7 linked regions of the Homo sapiens genome follow. The gene in region 4 interacts genetically with the main gene of each other region. Each region holds a gene or a part of one and is shown on either strand. Other genes may lie near its edges.

Region 1 (3,175 bases), on a different chromosome or scaffold from region 4:
CCTTTTATTATTTTATTTTTATTTATCTATTTTTTTGAGACAGAGTCTCAGTCTGTCACCCAGGCTGGAGTGCAGTGGCGTGATCTTGGCTCACTGCAACCTCCGCCTCCTGGGTTCAAGTGATTCTGCCTCAGCCTCCAGAGTAGCTGGGACTACAGGCACCCACCACCACGCCCAGCTAATTTTTTTTTTTTTTTTTTTCAGTAGAGACAGGGTTTCACCATCTTGGCCAGGCTGGTCTTGAACTCCTGACTCGTGATCCACCCACCTCGGCCTCCCAAAGTGCTCGGATTACAGGCGTGAGCCACCACGCCCGACCTCCCATGTTCCTTTTAAAAGGACTGGGCTTTCATGCTATTAATATATAAAGAAATCCACCTTCAGCAGTGAAATCTAACAATGCCAGGGAGCCAGTGCTTGTAAATGCCCGATAATCTTTTCTGATGAGCTTAATTTCCTTTTCGTAAAATTAAGGGTCTTCTCAAATCTAATTTTGAGAAAAAAATGGATAAAAATTACAGAACAAGGCTGGGTGCAGTGGCTCACACCTGTCATCCAAGCACTATGGGAGGCCAAGGCAGGCGGATCACTTGAGACCAGGAGTTTGAGACCAGCCTGGCCAACATGATAAAATGCCGTCTCTACTAAAAATACAAAAATTAGCCAGGTGTGGTGGTGGGCACCTGTAGTCCCAGCTACTTGGGAGGCTGAGGCATGAGAATCACCTGAACCTGGGAGGCAGAGGTTGCAGTGAGCCGAAATCACACCACTGCACTCCAGCCTTGGTGACAGACCGAGACTCTGTCTCAAAAAAAATAAATAAAAATAAAATAAAATAATAAAAGGAGGATAGTAGGGTGGGGACAGAGCGAGACTGTCTCAATCAATCAATCAATCAAGAACAGAACAGAAAGTCATACTTGCTTGCTTGTTTTGTTTTTGACGTCCTGATTCGTTTCGCTTTTGGCTTTCCCAGAGTTTCTACTGATTGTGCATCATCTTTCTATGGGTTAAACATTTTAAAAGGTTAAGTATTAAACACGAATCCAATTTTAAAACTTCTATCCTGAGACAAGGAATACTAGAGCCAAACACTGATGAATTCAAACTCGCCAAATGCAAAATTGACTCCTTTTCTCATACCTTTTAGTAGAAACCTTAGTTATGCAGGCCTGTTCTTTATTCCTCATTCCTACAATTCAACTAATCTCCAAGTTATCATCAGTTTTATTTTTGAATGTTTCCACTGTCTACTGCCCTTCTGTACCCACTCCCTTTGTCCAGATCCAGGCTCTCACTTTCTAAGAAGTAGACAACCAGAGACTATTGTTTCCTACCCACATTTCATCTTTCATAGAGACTACCTGTAATACACACATGGCTATTCACAATGAACACTCCTCATCTGCCTGCCATTGCCATGCTCTGAGCCTTTGCGTCTGCCATTTACTCTGTTGGGAGGAATGCCTGTCTCCTCTAACCTCGGTCTATAAAGTATTTGAAGTAATTGTTTTCATCTCTTCAATGAAACTGTGTATCTCAGTTGAACTGTAGGTGCCTGACAGACAAGGAATTTGCCTGAATTATTCTTGTGTAATTTGCCCTTGCAGAGTAGCAGACTCATGGCAGATAATTCAATAAATGCTTATGAATTAACATTTATAAACTTAAGGGACTCGCACTCAATCCCTCAACTATTTCTTTAAAAAACACCCAGGTAATTCTGATGGACACTAGAATTTAAAAACCCTTCCACAAACAGGTAATTTAAACTGTAACTGCTGGTAAAATATGATCAGTAGCATACCACAGATGTGTCTTAAAGGTAGGAGGCCTCCAAAGGGGTGGATACGACCATTTTTGGCTTTTGGTATGCATGACTGTTATCTTTAAGACATTTATTTAAATAATAAACAAAATTTAAAATCATTAAAATTTAAATAAAATAATTTTATTAAAACATTTGTAAAAAAAAAAAGTATGTTTTAACAAACATACAAATAAAATCATGCATTTCTTACCAGTTCATCTTCAAGCTTGTTCTTATTGGATGTGTTTTTTTGTCTGCTCCTTAAAGCAGGAGGTGAGATGACAAACTGAGAAGATAAATCCGAAACTAATTCTTTCAGCTGTGCAGGAACCTCTATTTTTTTAGCTAAAAAAAGTTGAAAAAACTGTATCTGTATCTTTATATATGTGTGTATATATATAAACACAATAAAAACCTGGAACAAATTATGTGTTTTAGAAAGATGCAAACGTCCCCAAACCTGGAAACCATTAGTATTGCAACCTAAGTATCCATGTTGGCAGAGAAACGACAGAAAAATCCCAGCATCATTTGGGTAAGCCAAATGTGTAGGACGATTGAATGCTTCAAACTAAAAAGTGCTACAATATAAAGACAGGCCATGAAAGCAGGTACAGAACTGTTTAGTCTATTTCTTTTAATCCGTACTGCTCCTCAAGCATTCTGGGGAGGGAAAGCATTAATCCTATATGTAACCTGAGCTAGTCTGTGCCATAACTACTGCTATTGCAGAGACGTTATTTACAAAGTAGGTTTTTTATTTTCAAAAAAGAGAAAATCTTTCTAGCCACCTCATTTTGAACTACTTGTTCCAGCCAAAGGAACAGAAAAGTTCATCTCCACAAAAGGAGAAAGTGCCAGGTGCAGTGGCTCACAATTGTAATTCCAGCACTTTGGGAGGCTGAGGTAGGAGGACGGCTTAAGGCCAGGAGTTCAAGACTAGCCTGATCAACAAAGTGAGAGCCCTGTCTCTACAAAAAATTTTTAAAAGATTAGCCAATGTGGTGGTGCACGCCTGTGGTGTCAGCTACGTGGGAGGCTGAGGCAGGAGGATCACCTGAGCCTGGGAAGCTGAGGCTACAGTGAGCCATGATTGTGCCACTGCACTCCAGCCTGGGTAACAGAGTGAAAAGCTAACAGGAAGATATTCCATAGAAAAATAAAAATGGTTTAAACAACAATTGGTTTAAAATAAGGAATTAAAAGCATTTACCACACAGACTTTTTTTTTTTTTTTTAACTATAGGGCCCCCATATTAAAAGCAATTATCAATATAATTACAGACGAGCACAGTTCAGTTTAACCAGTCTGCCGGAGTAAATCCCAGCTTCTGGACTTACTGTGAGACCAGAATCAAGTAACTT
Region 2 (3,938 bases), on a different chromosome or scaffold from region 4:
TCTTATACTGGCGCGTGCGTGCCGTGCACACGTACACACACGCGCGCACACACACACACCCCTTTCTCCCTTACCCTGCTTCACCTTTTTACAGAATTTAATACTGTCTGAAATGTACTTGTTGGTGGTGTCCTGCCACTAAATCCCGGAGGGAACGGATTTTTGTCTGTTTTGCTCCCCATGATCTAAAACAGTACTTGGCACAAGAGGTTCAACAACTCGTTGAATTAATGAATAGTGGACATGAACTTGACAAAACAGGTTCCCTGCCTCAAGAGGCATGGCCGCAGTGAGGAGACGTTAAAAGAATTAAAACTGTATATGTTTAGTGGGAACACAGGAGCCTTTAAATTAGCTCAGAGGATTTACATAGATACCTGCGATAAAATGGTTCGTATAAGGTTCATATAATAGTTACGTAAGACTCTTGAAAACTGTAATGTATTATGCAATTTTAAGATTGTATCATAGCTGGCGAAAATGAGGTCACATCTTGCCATTCTTTTTTCGCCTCGAAAAATTTTATGAGGAAAATTTCCTTTCACTTCCTCATTTATTTCCTTTTCCTGTAACCTAAATGGTCAAGCGGCTGTGAATGTTATCTTCTATGGGCAGCAATAAATACGGTTTGGTGTCGGAGTCTGCGTAGTGAATGGCTCACTGGATCTGGCGCATGCGCATCTTTTGTGGTGCCGCAAGATGGCTGCCAGCCATTTTGTCGCGCGTTGCTCCTCCGAGGAGTTGGGGGCGATGGCTGCAGCCCCCTGAAGACTAACAGTGGTCTCAGTGGTGGGAATTTTCTGTCTCTGTTGTGTGAGCTGAACACACCCAAGAGAGCGGCCAAAAGCAGCAAAGGGCGGGGCAGGGGAACCCCCCCACCCGGCTAACCTTAGTTATACCAGCTCCCTCACCCATCCCTCCCAGTTTTTCCTTCCATCCCGTTACACGCTTATCTTCTGCGCAGGCGCAAAAATAATCGTAGCGCCTCCTGGGCCCTGGGGGCTTCAGAGCTCCTGCGCGCGCTTGTGGTTCTCCACTCCTGATTGGTCAGGTTGCCCCGCCATCACGCCTCCCTCTGCTTTCAAGGTTGAGAAGGAAGCAGGGGTAGGGGGGTGGGGCCAAGTGGCGCGTGCGCGATACTGTTGCTGCCCCTTTGCTGCTATTGCGTTGCAAAAAAAATCCTGACTAGGTAGCCTTGGACCTTTTCTGTGCTAGCGAGTCTAAAGGAAAGAAAGATTTCTGCAACTGAAGGGGCAGTCGGGTAGTATTACATTTAAGATATTAACGCCCGACCTGGCTCACAGGAGTGTGGGAACAGGGGCGGGGAAGGGCCTTAGCACTGAGAGCCGAAAAGTATAAAACGATTAGTTTCGGCGTCAGGCGTTTTGAAAGGCTTTGCAGGTCCTGTTTTCTGCGTAATTTTTCCGTGATTACTGACTGGTTTAAACACGACCCCTTGAACAATATTGATAAAACCTCCGAGACCCGCAGCCCCTCCTTGCAGCGTGTAGGAGCTGCCAGCGTGCCCAGCAGCTGGTGTTCCCGTCCGTACCTCCAGAAGAGCCCAGCGCGTGCACCATCCCCACCCCCTAGCTTCCCTCCCCACCTACGGCTTTCACGCACTCGCAGTGATTGTTTTGCCCGCTCCCGCCGCCGCCGCCGCCGCCGCCGCCAGAGGAGCAGCAGCGCTTGTGCAAACCGGGAAGATGGCGGCCGGCGGCGGCGGAGGCAGCAGTAAGGCCTCCTCCTCGTCGGCCTCTTCGGCAGGGGCTCTGGAGTCCTCGTTGGATCGAAAATTCCAGTCGGTAACCAACACCATGGAGTCCATTCAAGGCTTGTCGTCTTGGTGTATAGAGAACAAAAAACACCACAGTACTATCGTCTATCATTGGATGAAGTGGCTCCGGAGATGTGAGTGTTGGGGGTGACTAGGGAAGGGAAGACTGGGGAAATGGAAGGAAGTGTGGCCTGAAACGCTTGGGGTTTTCCCACGGAGCCGCAGCATTTGGTTGGGGTTGTTCACATTAAAGGTTTGACCCCAGTGGTCCCAAACCCAGACTCCATTCCTAGCCAGGATTGTCCTGAATTGCAGGAGACTCATTTCTTGGGTTTTTTAGCCATTGAATTGTTGTGACCTTGGGCCGTTGGGCCCAGATCCATGGAGATTTACGTATATTGTTTTTAATATTTCAGAGCCTTGTAAGGTGTATTGATTTTTCCGAACCTTCGCGGAAATTGTAGCGTCTGTTTATTTCTTACAGGCCTTGACGTGTTAATGATTTCTGGCTTTCCTGATGGTAGGCGAGCTGTGGTTTTAAGCAGTAGTAAATCCAGTGATGTTTAATGAGGAGTGCCTTGTCTGGATGAATGTATCTAAAACTTGTGATGTGTAGTAAGGAGAGCCTTACCTGGATGAATGTTAAGAAGCAGCATGAGCTCTACATAGATCTGAGGCACCACCGGGTTTTCCCTGTACCTGTGTTTGCTGCAATAAAATACAGGTTTCTTGGATACTGACCAGAAACAACTGCGATACAGTAGTCAGTATCATCGTTAATACCTTCAAATATAAAGCGTGTCCAGTTCCTCTTTTTTTTTGAGACGGAGTTTTGCTCTTGTCGCCCAGGCTGGAGTGCAGTGGCGCGATCTCGGCTCACTGCAACCTCCACCTCCCGGGTTCAAGCGATTCTCCTGTCTCAGCCTCGCGAGTAGTCGGGATTACAGGCGCCCGCCACCATGTCCGGCTAATTATTTGTATTTTTAGTAGAGACGGGGTTTCATCATTGTGGCCTGGCTGGTCTCGAACTCCCGACCTCAGGTGATCCACCTGCCTCGGCCTCCCAAAGTGCAGGGATTACAGACGTGAGCCCCCCGTGCCCGGCCCCGTTACTTTTTAATTACCTGAAATACCTTTTTACACAATTGAGTTGATCTCATGGGTAATGTGCACAGGAAATGTGCTTTTTGAATATGTAGTACCTTTTTCTCCAGTTATGTTTTTTTTGTCTTTATCCTGGAGATTTTTCCATTTTGCTGCTTTACTGCAGAAACGAGCTCTGTTAAAGCATGGATTGTTTGCAGAACGTTTCAAATCTTATAGGAGGAAGTGTGGAGAAGTTACTGTTTCCTGCTGAGAAGAGAGGGTTAACTCATACTCCATATACATCTATTAGAATTTTTCTTTGCTTCCTGCCTGCGGCATTTCACCAGTGAGACCCATCATCCAGTTATTCTGCCTTATTCCACTTCTGCCATTGCTCCTGTAGTGTTTTGATTTGTTTACCTTTTAGAGAACAGATAGATAAAACTTGCAAAATTATAGGCCCCATGCTTCGAACTATTTGTGTTTAAAGTTTTGGGAGGGATGTTTTGTGGTTCTTTGAATAATAATGCAGAGAAATTAGTAGATACCGGACAGAATTACCTGTGTTTACCAATAACCGATCAAAGAGTTATTTTCTTGCCCAGAGGTAAAATTATAACGTGCAAAAACATCAAATATGATAACAGTCATCATTGAAGACTCACATGTTAAGTATCTGCTATGTGCCCAGTCATCTCATTGTACCTTAAAATCGTCTGAGAAGTAGATTTTTTAATCACTGATTTACAAACGAGGAAACTAAGACTCGGAAATTAAGTTGCTTAAGGTTACTCAGTAAAATGGTGGGGTTAGGGTTTGACTTCATCATTAACTTTGTAAAATAATGTTTAACGTTCTTGGTATACCAGTGATATATTGCAAACAGTTCTAATGTGAGTGAGAGAACCTCTTCTCCACCCTATTTTAAAACATTTTTACTGACCTATGCAAGCATTTTACATTTCCTCACCTTGGGCTCTGGGGCTTTAACTGTATGGTTACATCATTTGCAAGAATAAGTTGGTCCCTGTCCCGTCTCTGCTGTGTGGGATCACAAGCGACAATTACAGTTTTT
Region 3 (3,500 bases), on a different chromosome or scaffold from region 4:
TCCACTCCCAGCACCACCCCAGGCTGCTTCAAGACACCTGGAAACCCTCTCCTGAAATGGCTCCAGCCCTACCCTTCCCAATGCTGGATGCCTGCCCCAGCACCATCTAAGGAGGTCCCACTCCCCACAACTGCTGCTGACAACAATGCTGGTCTGCTCCTTGAACCTGGGACCCCTCCAACCTCCCCTAAGCCACAGATGACTGGACCATGGCTGGGCACCAGAACCTAAGAGTGCTGCTCTGCAGGCTGGTCAGTGACCTCAGAACTCCTTTGTAAAAGAGTGTCATATGGCAACAATGTTCTTTCTATAAAACACAAACTGGAGATAGTATACAACGTTACTTCTGTGGTTATGAGCTAGTGTTTGAAAATTGAAGTAATTCTTCAAATTTTTCAAATGTTCCATTTTAACTGGTGTTTCTATTGCTACAGCTAACATCTTCCATGAATAAAGCTTCCCCACTATTAGATGATGTCCATAGGATACATTCCAAATTGTTGTGCAAAAGGCTAATGTTATTTTTATGGTTAATGACATATCACATCTCATCAATTTTAAGACTCGCTCTTTTTCTAACTTTAATTCACTGAAATTAGGACAGCATTTTACAATGATAACTGGCAGCATTTTTTTTCTTTGGTGACACATAAAATAACGATGTTTCTTACACATGATGGTATCTTAGATCCAATGGAATAAAGCATGTTGGTAAGTAAGTTCCATAAAGGTGGTACTATTTCCAAAGCCATCAACAATATATAAAAATGGCAGTTTCACTGCATTCTTACTAGCAATGTTTTGGCAAAAAGTGTTACCTTCTGTTACCTTCTTTTATATTACATTTATTTGATTACTATCGGCATATTTCTTCTTTTGTGAATTTTTTGTTCTAATCCTTAGCCCATTTATCAACCTGAAAACTGTTTTTTCCTAAATATATTAAATAAAATCATTCTATAATAAAGTTTTTAATCTTTATCATTTATCTCATGACTGCTGAAAGTATCTTTCACTAATTGCTTTCTATTTTTTAACCCTTAGATGTTTTAAATTTGCATGTAATTTATTTAGTCTCCATGATTTTCTGTATTTTTCCTAAGCACTGAGCTGATAAAATCTCAAATCTACATGTCTAAATATGATCTAATCCGATATCCAGTCTCTTCTCTCCTATTGTCCATAAGAAATTTCCATGTAAAATATGCACTCTAAACAGGGGTGATATCACTTCCAAAGGGGTGGAAACTGGTTCTTGGAGGCAGGGGGAGGGGAGCATCTTAGACACTACAATGGCCGGTAGCCCTCCAAAGCTCAATCCTACCCTACAAAATCTTATTCCTTAGTATTTAATTTCTCAGGCTGGGTAGAATTTAAATTTAACTTTTCTCCTGGGCAGGGGTCTGATAATGAAACACAGGTGAAGAACACCAATTGCTGAAGTAAGGCTGTCATCTACCTGCTGGGTGACAGGCGTTTGACGAGCTGCTCTCCAACTAGGTGCTCCTTGTAAGCATCCTGTTTCTATCAATGACTCCAACATGGCTCAATGGCCCAGGTTTCAACTCTTCCCTCTCTCGTGAGTGTATTCACCCATCAAATATTCTCTGAGCGTCTCATATACTCCTCACTCCAAGCACTTGTCTCCAGTCCTCCTTCCCTAGAGTGCTCTTTGCCACCATTTTCTAATTCAACCAGACCCCAAAGCTTGACCGGACTCCCACCACACCTCAAGGAAGCTGAAAGACTTCCCAAGCTAGCCCTCTCTGGATTCCTTCTTCCCGGCATTCCTTCCACATCTGCCAGCACGTCTTCTATGATTACTAAAGTATCTACTACTTTAACTTCGAAGAGGACTGATAATCTTAGTACTTTGTCTATCCATATGAATCTCTCCCTTCATTACACTGTTCCCTTAGAGTAAAAGCCAAGACTCCGTCATTGTTTAATCACTTGCTCTTAGTATAAAGACAAAAGAAGACTTAAATGGAACCGCCTGGGCTCAGGTTCTGACTCCATCATACCCTCACTGTGTAACTTCAGCAAGTTACATTTTACCTCTTAGCCACGCTTTTCTCACCTATAAGATGGGGAAAAGAGCACACGTTTCACAGCGTTGTTGTGAGCATTAAATTAATAAACACATGGAACACTCAGTGCACTGTCTAGCCACTTATAAGCACTCAGGAAATGTTACCAAGTACTAATGGTGCTGAGGATGTGGCTGAGTACCTGGCACACTAGGCTTTCAGGCTGACTGCTGAGGCGGGTGTGTCACTTCCTTAAAAGCGTAGACTTCTGAGCCACATACAGATCTGGCTCTCCTCCTTACCAGTTGCGTGGTCCTGAATTTAATCTACCTTCTCCCTAGGATCTTACGACTAATTGTAAAATGAGGATAACATTACCGACACCTCACAGAGTGCGAGATTGAGCAAGAGAATATTTGGAGAACCCCTGCCACAGCGTAACCTACTGTGTCCCTGATTAATAGTAGTCACTGTCACTGCTAGAGGCCAGAGACTACGTCTTACATAGTACTTTTCTGTCTTACCTTTAGTGGCTGCCTAGGCTAAATATCCAGCACTTGCTTTAATAATACTTGTCTTTGAATATAAAATTTAATTTTTATGTAATAGCTACTAATATCACTGATCAAAAAGTAATTTTTCTTGCAAAGCCTACATGGGAAAATCAATGACATGATGTGCACTGATGTGACTGTTAGTGATTCTTAAGTATTGTCATGGGCTATGAAATTCCTTTAGTAAGAATGCCCATCAGAAAGAAAAATAGACCTCCTTGGAAAAAATACGCAACTTGACCTTCAGCTTTTCACAGATGCAGGCAACTCAAAATATAAAACCCAGTGTTGGTACAGAGCACGCCACACTGCCTCGCACCAGCCCAGCATGAGAACTTTAGGAAGACAACTCAACAGAATGAAGCAAGGGAGGTCACCAGCTGGGACGGTTTCTTCTCACCTTCACTAGACTTCCTGGGCACTTGAAACTTGACAAGAAGCTTTTTCAATTGTTCTCTTACAGTCGCAGCTCTGACAAGACCCTTGTAATTCAGGAAATGTTCCTGACACCATTTAGAGTCCTTATTGTGCTACAGAACAACCCAGAGAGAGGGAGTTAGAAAACAGATATGTTCTCGACTAAGGCTATGTTGTAAAGATCATTCTTCTCTCTTCCCCCATGTGCTGTTCAACGGCATAAGATCTAAAGATGGGAACTGGCCCTTTTTTGCCCCATCTCTCAAAACAGATGTTAACAACCTTGCACACATCTGACTGCTCTGCAACCTCACTCTTTACACTAAAGGGCAAATGAGAACTTAATGACACGCAGAAACGGTTTCAATCTTACATACCTTCATGAGATGTGAACTATCAGAAAGAACCATTTCTCCACGTGGTTCTTTGTAAATCAACTTTTCTTCTTTGGCATGCTTGAATGTATCACTTTATTATACTAGAAGCCAACAATATGACA
Region 4 (3,949 bases):
CTGGGAGTACAGGCATGCACTACCACGCGTGGCTAATTTTTTGTATTTTTAGTAGAGATGGGGTTTCACCGTGTTAGCCAGGATGGTCTCGATCTCCTGACCTCGTGATCCGCCTGTCTCGGCCTCCCAAAGTGCTGGGATTACAGGCGTGAGCCACCACGCCCAGCCAACACCCCCAACTCTTAACTGTGATGCTTCCAGTTCACTGAGTAAATAGAAGCAATCCAAAGACAGCTCCTAGGACCAACTCATTCAGCCATTCACCCACCCTCTTTATTTATCTAAGAGATGAGGTCTTGCTCTGTTGCCCAGGCTGGAGTGCAGTGGCATGATCACAGCTTGCTAAAGCCTCAATCCTCTGGCCTCAGCCTGCTCAGTAGCTGGGACAACAGGTGTGCACCACCATGCCCAGCTTCGGCATGCCTCCTTTACTATGGAAGTAAGTTCCTGCAAAAACAATTTGTTCATTCTGCCCTGGCTCCCATCCCCTTTTCTTTGAGCAACATCAAATTTTCCAGCTCCACTGGATCACTCTCACACACTTGTTATTACCTCTCTCCTCATTTAAAAAGGGGGAAAAAAAAACTCTTCATCCTCTTCCAGCTATGATCCTTTTCTCTGCAGGCTGTTTTAGTGTACAGCCATCTGCATTCCCACCCATCTCTCTGCACCCCTTGCCTCCAAACTTAGGTTACTGGTGGCTCCATACTGCAAATCCCAATGGCAGTCCTCCCATTCCAGAGGTCCTTCCTCCCCTGAGAGCACATGTGGCTCTCAGGATGCCATGTGCTCCCTGTCCTCTGCCTCACTGGTGGCTCCTGCTAGTCTCCTATGCTCCTGCCTCTCTGCCAACTTGCTCCAATGAAGAGAGCACGTGAGTTTGGGCCAGGCGCTGTGGCTCACGTTTATAATCCCAGCACTTTGGGAGGCCAAGGTGGGCAGATCACTTGAGGTTAGGAGTTGGAGACCAGCCTGGCCAACATGGTGAAACCCCATTTCTACTAAAAATACAAAAATTAGCTGGGCGTGGTGGCACATGCCTGTAATCCCAGCTAATAGAGAGGCTGAGGCAGGAGAATCGCTTGAACCTGGGAGTCGGAGGTTTCAGTGAGCTGAGATTGTGCCACCGCACTCCAGCCTGGGCAACAGAGCAAAACTTCATCTAAAAAAAAAAAAAAAAAAGGCTGAGTGCAGTGGTTCACGCCTGTAATCCCAGCACTTTGGGAGGCCGAGGTGGGCAGATCACGAGGTCAGGAGTTCGAGACCAGCCTGACCAACATGGTGAAACCCCATCTCTACTAAAAATACAAAAATTAGCCAGGCATGGTGGTGCACGCCTGTAATCCCAGCTACTCGGGAGGCTGAGGCAGGAGAATCACTTGAACCTGGGAGGCGGAGGTTGCAGTGAGCCGAGGCACTCCAGCCTGGGCAACAGAGCAAAAAGCCCATGAGTTTAATTGTTGGATCCTCTCCTTTCTGGCTATACTCACCACATGAAGATTTCACCCAGTCTTAGGGCTTCATGCCTACTCTACACTGAGGCCACCTGCTTCTCCAGCCTTGAGTCTGAACTGCAGACTCTGATCTATCTGCCTCAGCCACACCTCCACCTGATGTCTAACTTCCACCTAAGATTAAACATATCATGTCCAAAACCAAGCCCCTGACATTGCAACCTGCTCTTCCAGTCTTCCTCATCTCAGCTAACAGCAATTCCATCTTTCCGGATAATCAAATCAGAAACCTTGGATTCATCCTCAATGTCTTTTTCCCTCACACATTCCTTATGCGATCCTCCCCCTGCCCCTCTACCTCTGAAATATAAATTAGCCGCGGCACCACGCCCAGCTAATTTTTGTATTTTTTGTAGAGACAGGGACCCACCATGTTGCCCAGCCTGGTCTGGAACTCCTGGGCTCAAGAGATACTCCCGCCTCGGCCTCCCAAAGTGCTGGCGTTACAAGCATGAGCCACCGTGCCCAGCAATAACCATTACTGAATAAATCACTCAATCAGTTTGCTTGTAACTCTATCACTTTGGGACGTCACGCCCGTAATCTCATCACTTTGGGAGGCCCAGGTGGGAAGATCGCTTGAAGCCAGGAGTTCCAGACCAGCCTGGGAAACAGAGTGAGACCCTTCATCTCTACAAAATTACAAAAATTAGCCTTGAGTCTGTAGTCCCAGCTACTCGGCAAGCTGAAGTGGGAAGCTTGCGCCCAGGAGGTCGAGGCTGCAATGAGCTATGATCGCGCCACTGCACTCCAGCCTCGGCGACACAGCAAGACTCACTCTCAAAAAAAAAAAAAAAAGTCCAAACAAAATCTACGGATGAGCCCCAGAAGCTCATTTTGCCCAGGGACTACAGTCTCCCCATCCCATGAATGGGGTCTGGCTTGCACAAGGAATGCAGAGGCCTCAGCCTGTCCTGTGACAACGTTAAGTCCAAGAGCGCCAAAAGGGGATGGCAGAGGAGTCATCCCCCGAATCTGCTGGTACCCAAGAGGTGGGGGGTTGGCTGTTCCTCCAGACTCACTAAAGCTTCGGCATCGCCTCCCGACGGCCGCCGGGAGGAGCCAGGCGTCCCGGTAGTCGCGCTTGGAAGGATGGGGTCGGGGGGAGTCAGTCTCCCCGACCGGCTTTCCCCCAAGCTCGAGGTCCCAGGAGCCTCCTCCAGGACCCCGTAAACGCACGGAGTAGAGGAACTTCCAGTCCTGCCCACCCCCAACGCCCACTCGCACGAGCCGCACCAGCACTCACCTTCTCCAGCTGCGAAAGCTCCGTTCACCCGGGAGATAGTGACTTCCGACTCCTGCCGGAAGCGGAAACCCCTCTCCTACTTTCAGGTCCCGGCCACCCCCATCCCGGACAGCCCAGCAAATAGGCCCTGCCTCCTTCGCCGCTCCTCTGAGCGCACGCGTACTCAAATAGCAGCGCTCCGACGGAGACGCAGTGCGCCTGCGCAAGAGCCGGTGCGTATTTGCCTGTACCTACGCGCGATGCCAGTACTTCTGGTCAGTTTCCAGGAGCGGCAAGTGAGGAATATGAAATAACCTTATGGCTGAATCAGGGTGAAGGGGAAGCTTGTAAGCATGGAAGACGCTCTACTCAAACTAAAAAGTTCAAGTTCTGATCCAGCAGATGAAGAGGGAGGCCTGAGAGGCTGCTGTTCTAACTCGCTCCCAGGTGACTTCCATGCTGCTGATCCGCAGACCACATTTTGAGTGCCCAGATTGTAGTAGATGAGGTTGAGTGGACAGGCTGGGGCCAGATTCCATGGAGCCTCGTGGGCCGTGTTAAGGATTTTTATTTTTTATTTTTGTTTTATTTTATTTTATTTTTTTGAGACGGAGTCTCACTTTGTCGCCCAGGCTGGAGTGCAGTGGCTCGATTTCGGCCCACTGCAACCTCCGCCTCCCAGGTTCAAGTGATTCTCCTACCTCAGCCTCCCGAGTAGCTGGGATTACAGGCGCCGGTCACCGCGCCCGGCTAATTTTTGTAGTTTTTTTTTTTTTTTTTTTTTTGAGTAGGGATGGGGTCTCACCATCTTGGCCAGGCTGGTCTTGAACTCCTGACCTCGTGATCCACCCGCCTCGGCCTCCCAAAGTGCTGGGATTACAGGCGCGATCCACCCGCCTCGGTCTCCCAAAGTGCTGGGATTACAGGCGTGAGCCACCGCGCCCGGCCAAGGACTTTTATTGGTTTTTATTTTTGGTTTTGTTTTTTTCTGAGACAGGGTTTCGCTCCGTCGCCCAGGCTGGAGTGCAGTGACGCCATATGGGCTCACTGCAACCTTAGCCTCCCGGGTTCAAGCGATCCTCCTGCCTCAGCCTCTTAAGTAGCTGTGATTACAGGTGCGCACTACCATGCCTGGCTAATTTTTGTATTTTTAGTAGAGATGGGGTTTCACCATGTTGGTCAGGCTGGTCTCGAACTCCTGACCTCAAGT
Region 5 (4,080 bases), on a different chromosome or scaffold from region 4:
TACTGTTGTGGTAGCCCAGGCAAAAGATGGTGGTGGCTTGGAATAAGGTGGTAAAAGTGAAGATGGAGAATAGAAGACAGATTACAAAAACATTCTGCAAGTGGAAGTGACAAGACTTACTGAAAGACTGGGGAAGAGGAGTAGTAAAGGAGAAGAACAAAGATGATTCTCAGAGGTCTATCTTTGGTAACCCTGCGGATAGGAGCACCACTCAGTGAAACGGGAGGATAAGGTTTGCAATGATGAGAAAACCAAAACTTTCTTTTGGTTATGTTAGCTTTGGGTGCCTAAGAAATATCCAAATGGAGATAATTAAACAGGCATTTTTGACGCGTGATTCTGCAACATAGAGGAGAGGGCTGGACTAGAGATTTAAACTTTGGAGTTGCCAACTTTCAGGTGGTAATTAAAGCCATGGGGCTGGGTTACCTAAAGGGAAGCATGTAGAAGGCTCGGGATTCCTGTGAGAATTCCAACATATGTAGATATACATATATTTTGAGACGGAGTTTTGTTCTGTTGCCCATGCTGGAGTGCAGTGGCATGATCTCTGCTCACTGCACCTCTGCCTCCCTGGTTCAAGTGATTCTCCTGCCTCAGCCTCCCAAGTAGCTGGGATTACAGGCGTGTCGCCACGCCCGGCTAGTTTTTGTATTTTTAGTAGAGATGGGGTTTCACCATGCTGGCCAGGCTGGTTGTGAACTCCTGACCTCAAGTGATCTGCCCACCTCGACCTCCCAAAGTGCTGGGATTATAGGCATGAGCCACTGCGACCAGCCCCAGCATTTAGACATTAGATAGAGAGCAAAAGTTGCTAGCAAATGAGACTCAGAAGGAACAGCCGGAGAAATGGAGAAAATCCAAGAGTGAAATGTCAATAAAGCCAAGATGAAAGTTTGGAGGCAGGAGTAACTATGTTGAATATTGCAGAGACAGAGGAATATGAGAACAAAGTATCCATTGGATTTGGCAACATAGAAGTCACTGGTGACCTTGATAAGAGCAACTTCAATGGAGTGGGCAAAGTAGATGTGGTGGCACTTGATTACTAGAAGCTGCCTCAGGAGGACTGCTTGAGCTCAGGAGTTCCAGGTGGCAGTGAGCTATGATGGGGCCACTGCACTCCAACCTGGGCAACAGAGCAAGACCCTGTCTCCACAAAAAAAAAAAAAAAAATGGAGTGGGCAGAAGAGAAGCCAGATTGGTATAAAATGAAGAGTGAATGAAAGTTGAGAAAGCTGAGTTGGTACAGGTAGAAATCTATGAATGGAAATTTAAAAAATTGGCATGGTAATTGGAGAGGGATGTGAAGGATACCAGAACATAATTTGTATGCTGATGGGAACAGTTTCAGGGAGAGACAGGATTTGGTGACTGATTTTATTGGGAAATAGTGGACAGGAAGGAAGACAAGGATTACAGGCAGGACTGATGGTAGTGCCATTTATTAAGGTCAAGAATATAGAATCAGGGCAAACGTATTTGCCTACAAAGATCATGTTTCCACCACACTAGGTAGGCTTTCAGAGGAAGAACTGTAAAATTTGACTAAGCCTCTCCAGACGGTACCACTTTCTGATGTAATTAATCTCCTGATGAAGTTAAAACCTCCTAGAGTTGCAAGGCTATGCTAATCCAATCTAGCAGCCACACAAGCCAAGTGAATAAAAATGTACTTGTACTGGTGAAAGGGACATTACTCGTAAAAAAGGGCTCTAAATTCACAGCTGATGGAAGAGCAGTTATGTTTCTGTAATCAAAACACTGAAGACTTACAAACTGGTAACTTCCAGATAAACAGTGGAACCAGACATTTTTCCGAAGAAATTAATCAAATTCAATATTGTTTACACTCCCTAATGCTCATTAATGATGTAGCTTCATACACCCTTGTTACTTTTGATATTACAGTGAATTTCCACGGAAGTATTTTCAGAGATCTTAGCCCTCTGAAATAAGTATCAGTTCTTGCAACAACCCAGGAAAATTAACTTCTCCAGCTGGTTCAAAGGAGTGCCTGAGGAGAAAGGTAGAAACTAGAAGATGGAGTTTTGACTTAATAACTAATTTTGATGTTCATGATAGGCCTCTGGCAAACGTTTGAGGAAATGAATCTATAGAGAATGGACGGGCTTTAGGACTTCTACAAGACCTTCGATCTTTAGAAAGGGATGAAGGATGCAACCATCTACAAAAAGTTCTATTTGTATTATTCAGCAATATGTAAAGAGCTGGAATTTGGCATCGCCCTCTAGCCTGATGGCCGAGCTGCTGAAAGCTCCACAGGATTCATATCCCCAGAACAAACAACTCGATCACCTGATCCTGGCTCAGAAGCCCCAGGTCCCTTCCATCCCCAATCCTTTTGCGTGGCCCAGTTTTAAAAACCTGCGGAGAGAAGGACGGGATGCCAGGAAGCCTGTTGATTCAACGTGCCACCCGATTCACGGGTTCCGGGTGTCACTGGGCTGGGAAAAGCTTTCGGACTCTGAGCAACTACAGCGCTTTCCTCCCCCTTCCCCCCATAGAGCAGGGAAGGCCAGGCTCCCCCTTCTTCCCGCATACGGCTCCCCACTGCCTCTTCCCTTACGTGACCAGGCCCTAGGAGCCCGGTTCCCCACCTGACTCCTGCGAGAAACACGCTCTCCAGTCGGAACTTTACCTGTCTGAAGCCCGCCGCTCCTCCAGTGCGCTAAGCCCCCACCGAGGAAAATGGAGTCGTCGAACCGAGACTGGGAAAAGATAGTACGGACCCACCGCACGGCCCCTCCGCCGCCACCGCCGCCGCTGCTGCGTCAACGTGCTACGTCATTTCCGGCTCCCTGTCACCGGGAGTGGGCGGGCCATTTCTTGTTCTCTCTCCCGCTCTCGGAAGCTTTCGTCTCGTGGGTGCGAAAGGTAACCGAAGCGGCTCAGGAAGGCAGCTGTCACTGAGCCCCTGGAACAGAGCGAGAGTATCGTAAGTAACCAGGCTCAGCCGGTTTCTCAGGCCGCTCTAGTCAAATAAACCATAAAGATCAGACTCGGGCTTCTTCACTTCCTTCTCTCCGTGGTTTCGCCATTAGCTTCCGGTTCCGGGGAGGGGCCGAGTTTTCTTCGAAGATTTGGGGCTCCGCGATACAGTTAGGATGGCTGTAGTACCTCTGCTGTTGTTGGGGGGTTTGTGGAGCGCTGTGGGAGCGTCCAGCCTGGGTGTCGTTACTTGCGGCTCCGTGGTGAAGCTACTCAATACGCGCCACAACGTCCGACTGCACTCACACGACGTGCGCTATGGGTCAGGTAATGCTGGGGACCGGGCTCGGGTGGGCTAGGGAGGACTCGGAGGCTCTGGAGGGGCGGGGCCTATAGAATATCTGACAGTGTGGTCTGGGAAAGTTAGGGGTTCCCTGGGAAGGTTCCTCAGGTCTAGAGAGTCGGAGAACTGAATTGTTCTAAGGCATCTTAATCGCAACACCACCTAATATTTGGTGAGCTACAGGCCAGGCACGTTACCTATGTCCTTTTTCCGATTATTAACATTGTTGTAAGGTGGACAGTATTGTTATCCTCATTTCACAGATGAGGAAACAGACGCAGAGAAATTAAATCGTTTATTCAAAGCCTTGCAGTTAGCAAATGACAAAGTCGGGGTTCTATCCAAATCTATCCAGGTTCAAAGCCTGCTTTAGAGACAAGAAAATTACAGTAAGTGCTGTGTCTGAAATTTTAAAGTTACAGTAAGTACTGTCTGTGAAACTTTAAACTCCAAGAGCTCACTCGTTGACTACAACCCTTTGTCTTCCAGCTCTTCTGCATCTTACACTTGCTCCTCAGTTTCCATCTTTGGCCCCCTTCTACCCAAACCTTAACCTCCTTCTTGTAAGAAACTTGGAGCAGTGACAGGAATTGCAGAGAAAACTGCTTTTTTTTTTTTTTTTTTTTAGCGTTTGAAATTAAAATGTTTAGTAATAAATTATTTGTGGATTCATTCAGCATAGGTCTTAATGAGTTCCTACTACATGGCTAGAATTGTACTACATACAGGAGATTCGGTGGTGATAATCAGTCAAGAAAATTACAATATAATAAAAACAGACTAAA
Region 6 (2,899 bases), on a different chromosome or scaffold from region 4:
GTTATATTTACTAACACTTCTGATCACTTTAACTTGGGGTCATTACAGATCTGCTTCTTCAAAGAATCTTTAATCCCATCAGTGAAAGGTTCCCAAGGTCCCTGAACCATACTTTACTGAGAGCTCCTCCCACTGCTCTCTGTCCCAAAGCTTGAGATATGGGCTCTGGGGGTCATAGGGTTCCCAAATAAATCCAGATTTGCAGGGAGAGGGGATGTGTTTTGATGAAGGTCCTCATGCTATAGGTTCTTCAAAGATGCTAGCAGAGGTTAGAGACAAAAATCCTATTAATTTATGGATAGTGGCAACCATCTAGCTGGACAGTTGTCAGAACCTAAAGTGCTTTAGAGGCTTGATACATAGGCAGCTTTCTTCTAGCTGTGGCCAGTGGAAGGACTAGCTCGAGGCCCAATCTTAGATTTATCATATGGAATTCCAGTACTTCACGTGAAGGCATCTTTAATGATCAGACTTGTTGGCAGAGTTCCTCGGGAGGAGGGAGCCTGGGGCTGTGGCTGTGTGATGTGTTCCTCAGTAACCACAGGTTTGCCTCTCTCCTCACAGCCCCCAGTCCCCAGCCAGACCTCCTCATACTCCTGCATGCTGCCCACCAGCCCTTCGGTGAATGGGCGGAGTTATGATACCTACACCCCCCCACATATGCAGACACACATGAACAGTCAGCCAATGGGCACCTCGGGCACCACTTCAACAGGTGAGCCACTGCTTTCTGCAGGCTGCACAGAGGCGATCTCTCTTCACTAGAAGTTTACCCAAACAGAATCTCCTGGTCTTATGGGAGGGCGTGTTTAACTCCTTGCTTTCCTTGTCCCTGGGGGATGGGGATTGAAAAGGGAAATTCAGTTAAGCTAATTAGTAACTTTACACCATATAGACAAAAACTAAAATTGTTTTTCCTGAATTTGGTCACAAAAGTTGTGTATGAAGACAAGGCCTGAGACTGCAAGTTTTCTGAGGACAGATTATTAGACGAAGCTCAGTAGGGGGCCCACTGAGCTGTAGGTGCGTGCTTGTTGAAATGCTTCTTGCCCTCATAGCTCCTCTAGACCTTTTGCTGGAAATAAAAAGTGACACATTGGTTTTCCAGAGACAGCTTTATTGTAAAAGTTCCAAACATGCAAACAAACAGAGGATTTTTTTTTTCTTTTCCTTTGGATTGGGGTGGGGGGTACTTGGGATCCAATAGGTATATATACATATATTGTCTAGTTTCTGAAGGTGCTACTTTTATTTGTAACAATTGAAGTGATTTTAATACAGTAAAAAATGTTAGAAAGTATTAGTTTTTTTTTTTTTTTTTTTTTTTGTAAACCTATAAATTTGTATTCCATGTCTGTTTCTCAAAGGGAATATCTACATGGCTATTTCTTTCATCCACTTCTAGGACTCATTTCCCCTGGTGTGTCAGTTCCAGTTCAAGTTCCCGGAAGTGAACCTGATATGTCTCAATACTGGCCAAGATTACAGTAAAAAAAAAAAAAAAAAAAAAAAGGAAAGGAAATATTGTGTTAATTCAGTCAGTGACTATGGGGACACAACAGTTGAGCTTTCAGGAAAGAAAGAAAAATGGCTGTTAGAGCCGCTTCAGTTCTACAATTGTGTCCTGTATTGTACCACTGGGGAAGGAATGGACTTGAAACAAGGACCTTTGTATACAGAAGGCACGATATCAGTTGGAACAAATCTTCATTTTGGTATCCAAACTTTTATTCATTTTGGTGTATTATTTGTAAATGGGCATTTGTATGTTATAATGAAAAAAAGAACAATGTAGACTGGATGGATGTTTGATCTGTGTTGGTCATGAAGTTGTTTTTTTTTTTTTTAAAAAGAAAACCATGATCAACAAGCTTTGCCACGAATTTAAGAGTTTTATCAAGATATATCGAATACTTCTACCCATCTGTTCATAGTTTATGGACTGATGTTCCAAGTTTGTATCATTCCTTTGCATATAATTAAACCTGGAACAACATGCACTAGATTTATGTCAGAAATATCTGTTGGTTTTCCAAAGGTTGTTAACAGATGAAGTTTATGTGCAAAAAAGGGTAAGATATAAATTCAAGGAAGAAAAAAAGTTGATAGCTAAAAGGTAGAGTGTGTCTTCGATATAATCCAATTTGTTTTATGTCAAAATGTAAGTATTTGTCTTCCCTAGAAATCCTCAGAATGATTTCTATAATAAAGTTAATTTCATTTATATTTGACAAGAATATAGATGTTTTATACACATTTTCATGCAATCATACGTTTCTTTTTTGGCCAGCAAAAGTTAATTGTTCTTAGATATAGTTGTATTACTGTTCACGGTCCAATCATTTTGTGCATCTAGAGTTCATTCCTAATCAATTAAAAGTGCTTGCAAGAGTTTTAAACTTAAGTGTTTTGAAGTTGTTCACAACTACATATCAAAATTAACCATTGTTGATTGTAAAAAACCATGCCAAAGCCTTTGTATTTCCTTTATTATACAGTTTTCTTTTTAACCTTATAGTGTGGTGTTACAAATTTTATTTCCATGTTAGATCAACATTCTAAACCAATGGTTACTTTCACACACACTCTGTTTTACATCCTGATGATCCTTAAAAAATAATCCTTATAGATACCATAAATCAAAAACGTGTTAGAAAAAAATTCCACTTACAGCAGGGTGTAGATCTGTGCCCATTTATACCCACAACATATATACAAAATGGTAACATTTCCCAGTTAGCCATTTAATTCTAAAGCTCAAAGTCTAGAAATAATTTAAAAATGCAACAAGCGATTAGCTAGGAATTGTTTTTTGAATTAGGACTGGCATTTTCAATCTGGGCAGATTTCCATTGTCAGCCTATTTCAACAATGATTTCACTGAAGTATATTCAAAAGT
Region 7 (3,500 bases), on a different chromosome or scaffold from region 4:
CACTCCAGCCTGGGCGACAGAGCGAGACTCTGTCTCAAAAAAAAAAAAAAAAAAAAAAAGAAATAGAAATAAATTAAAAAGTTAATATTTTTTTCTCTGTATTCCACCATGGGGACCACTGGGTCAAAGGGCCATGTTAGTAATTTAGGGGAGGGGTACAAAGCCTGTTAAGTTTTATAATGGCAAGATTGCATAAAAAGAACTGACTCCAAGGTTCCAACTGGAATGTTGGTGTTGATGACTTCCGCAGTCTTGTAATCTAGGTGCTGACTCTTGTCACCTAATCTGTAATGTAAACCTCTTACCTGTGATTGTAGAAATACATAGCAATAAATACTTGGCTTTCATTTTTCAGCATAGAAATTTCAAGAAATGGTTTTTCTAATATATTACAAGGGTTCTTTTAGGTGTCAACCCTTTGGTCAGCACCCAATAAAATAAATTGTTTTATAACAATCTGGATAAGTAAACTGCTATTTCCTTTACCTATATGAAATAAAATCAGTAGAAAGATTAGTAAACTGTCACAGGAGTGGAATTTAAAGAAAAAAAAGAGATTAGGCTGTTACCCTTGTATATGCTGGGGGAATGGCAGGTTTACCCTTTTAATCTTGGAAATTTTATTAAGGAGCTATTTTTTCCTCAGAACGTACATGGTGACCAGCCCCATGAGTAAATTTTAAAATAATTTTTCTGTACCTATCATTATGTAGAGGTGATGTATATAATAATATAATTTTAAGAAGTGACAGAGGCTGCTTTTCAATTTTGTTAAATTCTTAGAAATACAACAGTTTGAGATAAGGTTACTTTTTCATTATAGTACTGGCCTTTGGATTCCTTTCCATGGGTGATTCAGATGATATTTTAGTACAGTACAGAATTCGACAGTAATTTTGTAGTTATCAGGTAGATAACTAATACCTTCCTGGGAACTTAAAAAAAAAAAAAAAAAAGCCTAGGGATGTGTATGTGTGTTTCTTGTCAGATGTGGAGAAGGATGAGGAGTGAAGCTGGAGGGGAGGGGACAACAAAATCCATTTTCAGATGTGCTTTCATATGCTAGGATTCAACCTACAGCAAGTTTTAATGGTGTTATAAACCCCTGAAAATGGGAGATAACTGTGGAATTGCTGACAGTTCCCTAACTATAGCAATGCAAGTGTGCTGCATTAATACAATATTAACCTCAAGGATAGAAGATTTCAAGCCATAGTATATTGATCAAAGGATTGAACACAAAGAATACATTTTTATTTTGATAATTTCTTGCCTGGAGAGGTCTTTGAAAAAGTGACAACCAGAAGCAGAACCACATGATAGCATTGGTATTAACTAAAAACAAAACTTTTTAGTATTGTGGAATTTCATAAGCCTTTGATGTATATCTTTATCCATCTTGGCTATTTTTTAAGCTCTTTAGGACACAAAGCATCATAGGCTCTGTGTGTGTGTGTGTGTGTGTGTGTGTGTGTGTGTGTGTTTTAAGTAGATATGATATTATCCCTCAGAGACCTTACTTTTAAAAATAGGTTAATGCATGAGATACCACAATCTAAATGTGATCAAATAAGGTTATCATTAATATGTTTTCTGAGACATTTAGGGTTGGGGCAGAGAACTGAAGAGGTGAGTTTAGAAAAAAAAAAAAAAAGAGTTGAGGTAAAAGTGGCAGCAGTGACCATGATAGCTAATCACTTAATATACCTTTTCACCATTGCCCTCTTACGATAGCCCTTACACACACAAACACCTGCACACTAAGTCTTCCCTTGTGTTATGGAAATAAGGTTTGAGAGAAGAAATTTTGATACAGAGTAAACTTGACGTAAACCCATCAAGTTCTATGTACTGAAACTGCGAAGTGTATCTTTTAAAACACAGTTAGGAAGGAGTTCTGTGGCAGGGAGAGGCCTACCTGGATTTAAAACGTTACCATCGATATGGATACACAGAAAACTGATACTGCTAGTTGTTTCAGGGGGAAGGAACTAGATAATGCCTGTCAGGAATAAGAAGGAAATTTACTTTTATTTGTAATAACTTTTTGGTGATTTTAAATTTTATATCATGTGTACAGTATTATCTATTACAAATTAAAAAACAGAAAAGTAAAACTTTAACATAGATAATTGTGCATTGTCTTCTAGATTACTTTCTCTTTTTTTCCTTCAGGCGTTTGCAATGGCTGCTACTGTGAACTTGGAACTTGATCCCATTTTTTTGAAAGCACTAGGTTTCTTGCATTCAAAGAGTAAAGATTCTGCTGAAAAGCTAAAAGCACTGCTTGATGAATCTTTGGCTCGGGGCATTGATTCCAGTTACCGTCCATCTCAAAAGGTACTTGAATGAATAAAAAGCTTGGAGAGAGTTTTGTAAGGCCTGTAGTACTACATTGATAACATATAGACCATCTCAAAACAATCTCTGCCGAAATAATCTTTCCTTGTAGCATGAAGAAATTATATTCTTTATTTTCTTTTTTCCCTTCAAGTTTTCAGAGAACTGTTACACCACATAGAAAAATCAGCTGGGGGTGCAGGATATTCTGTTCTACTACTTTATGTGTATATGAATTCACTTGTTTACGACTTACTTTAATTTCCGATTCTTTGTGATCAGAATTTTTTTTAAGCTGCTGAATGTAACCACAACTTACTTCTAATTATTGCCTAATATTTTAAGGATTAAAAAAAATCAAGTAAAAGGACAGATCTTTCAACAAAATAAATTGAATATGGGTAGGATAATTTAAGAGAAAAGGAGGTATGGATGAACTCTGAGAACTGTGTAGCTCCTGTCTTGATAATAACAAAGCAGCCAATGGCAGCTTTATGTGAAAAGAATATATGTTTTGATACCAAACACACCTGTTTTAAATCCCACTTAAATCTTATAATTGTGTGATGATAATAGACAACGTATCTTGATGTCCCAGGCACTTTTCTGAGTAGTTTATGTGAATAATTAATTTTAATTATGATAATGATCCTTTAAGATAGATAACTGTTTTCTTCATTTTACATAAGGAAACTGAGGTACATAGAAACTTCATTTCACTTAGTCTGTTTATTGGTAAAATGGGGATAATAAGAACTACTTTGCAGAGTTGTAAAAATTGAAGGAGATCCAGTAAATGAGTTACCTAGTGTAGTACCTGCCTGGTACATAATAGGCTGTCACTGAATGACAACTCTTATTATATTCCCTAATACCTACTAAGACATTCTATCAAATCCTTCTAAGCTCTGACCCTCAAACTCCAAATCACTCAGGTCTGTGGACTTAGATCCCAAACTGAGAAGGAGAAAATAGAACATGACTAGCTCAAGTCTAACCAGAATCTGAAGCTCAAGAGAGGATCTAGTCCCAGGCTCAGAGCCCAAGTAAACACTGGCATTTTGTCCCCAGCCTTCTTTCAATACTAGGTCTAGTACTCCGAAGCCTTTTTATTGTATTTTGAATAGCAGAACCATTGTGACTTCATTTCTTCTATCCAT

Evidence for each region.
Region 1: changes in ELOF1 (region 4) and AHCTF1 together harm fitness more than expected from each alone (negative genetic interaction), as found in Homo sapiens cells (one large-scale study listed by BioGRID).
Region 2: changes in ELOF1 (region 4) and RPRD2 together harm fitness more than expected from each alone (negative genetic interaction), as found in Homo sapiens cells (one large-scale study listed by BioGRID).
Region 3: changes in ELOF1 (region 4) and DHX35 together harm fitness more than expected from each alone (negative genetic interaction), as found in Homo sapiens cells (one large-scale study listed by BioGRID).
Region 5: changes in ELOF1 (region 4) and SUPT6H together harm fitness more than expected from each alone (negative genetic interaction), as found in Homo sapiens cells (one large-scale study listed by BioGRID).
Region 6: changes in ELOF1 (region 4) and PAX6 together harm fitness more than expected from each alone (negative genetic interaction), as found in Homo sapiens cells (one large-scale study listed by BioGRID).
Region 7: changes in ELOF1 (region 4) and INTS12 together harm fitness more than expected from each alone (negative genetic interaction), as found in Homo sapiens cells (one large-scale study listed by BioGRID).

Annotation. Positions count from the first base shown.
Region 1 is NC_000001.11:246,841,774-246,844,948, forward strand, and holds part of AHCTF1 (protein ELYS), read right to left. Parts: intron 2,156-3,175; coding exon 2,022-2,155; intron 1,004-2,021; coding exon 921-1,003; intron 1-920. UniProt on the Homo sapiens protein: Required for the assembly of a functional nuclear pore complex (NPC) on the surface of chromosomes as nuclei form at the end of mitosis. May initiate NPC assembly by binding to chromatin and recruiting the Nup107-160 subcomplex of the NPC.
Region 2 is NC_000001.11:150,363,009-150,366,946, forward strand, and holds the start of RPRD2 (regulation of nuclear pre-mRNA domain-containing protein 2), read left to right. Parts: upstream 1-1,138; 5' UTR 1,139-1,706; coding exon 1,707-1,911; intron 1,912-3,938.
Region 3 is NC_000020.11:39,024,844-39,028,343, reverse strand, and holds part of DHX35 (probable ATP-dependent RNA helicase DHX35), read right to left. Parts: intron 3,115-3,500; coding exon 2,985-3,114; intron 1-2,984. UniProt on the Homo sapiens protein: May be involved in pre-mRNA splicing.
Region 4 is NC_000019.10:11,556,431-11,560,379, forward strand, and holds the start of ELOF1 (transcription elongation factor 1 homolog), read right to left. Parts: upstream 2,801-3,949; 5' UTR 2,761-2,800; intron 1-2,760. UniProt on the Homo sapiens protein: Factor involved in transcription-coupled nucleotide excision repair (TC-NER), a mechanism that rapidly removes RNA polymerase II-blocking lesions from the transcribed strand of active genes.
Region 5 is NC_000017.11:28,660,925-28,665,004, reverse strand, and holds the start of SUPT6H (transcription elongation factor SPT6), read right to left. Parts: upstream 2,801-4,080; 5' UTR 2,663-2,800; intron 2,389-2,662; exon of another isoform or gene 2,320-2,388; intron 1-2,319. Other genes in the region: SDF2 (stromal cell-derived factor 2), read left to right, coding at 3,129-3,279.
Region 6 is NC_000011.10:31,788,526-31,791,424, reverse strand, and holds the end of PAX6 (paired box protein Pax-6), read left to right. Parts: intron 1-564; coding exon 565-715; intron 716-1,100; exon of another isoform or gene 1,101-1,405; coding exon 1,406-1,491; coding exon of another isoform or gene 1,492-1,795; 3' UTR 1,796-2,399; downstream 2,400-2,899. UniProt on the Homo sapiens protein: Transcription factor with important functions in the development of the eye, nose, central nervous system and pancreas. Required for the differentiation of pancreatic islet alpha cells.
Region 7 is NC_000004.12:105,698,690-105,702,189, reverse strand, and holds part of INTS12 (integrator complex subunit 12), read left to right. Parts: intron 1-1,918; exon of another isoform or gene 1,919-2,175; 5' UTR 2,176-2,184; coding exon 2,185-2,340; intron 2,341-3,500. UniProt on the Homo sapiens protein: Component of the integrator complex, a multiprotein complex that terminates RNA polymerase II (Pol II) transcription in the promoter-proximal region of genes.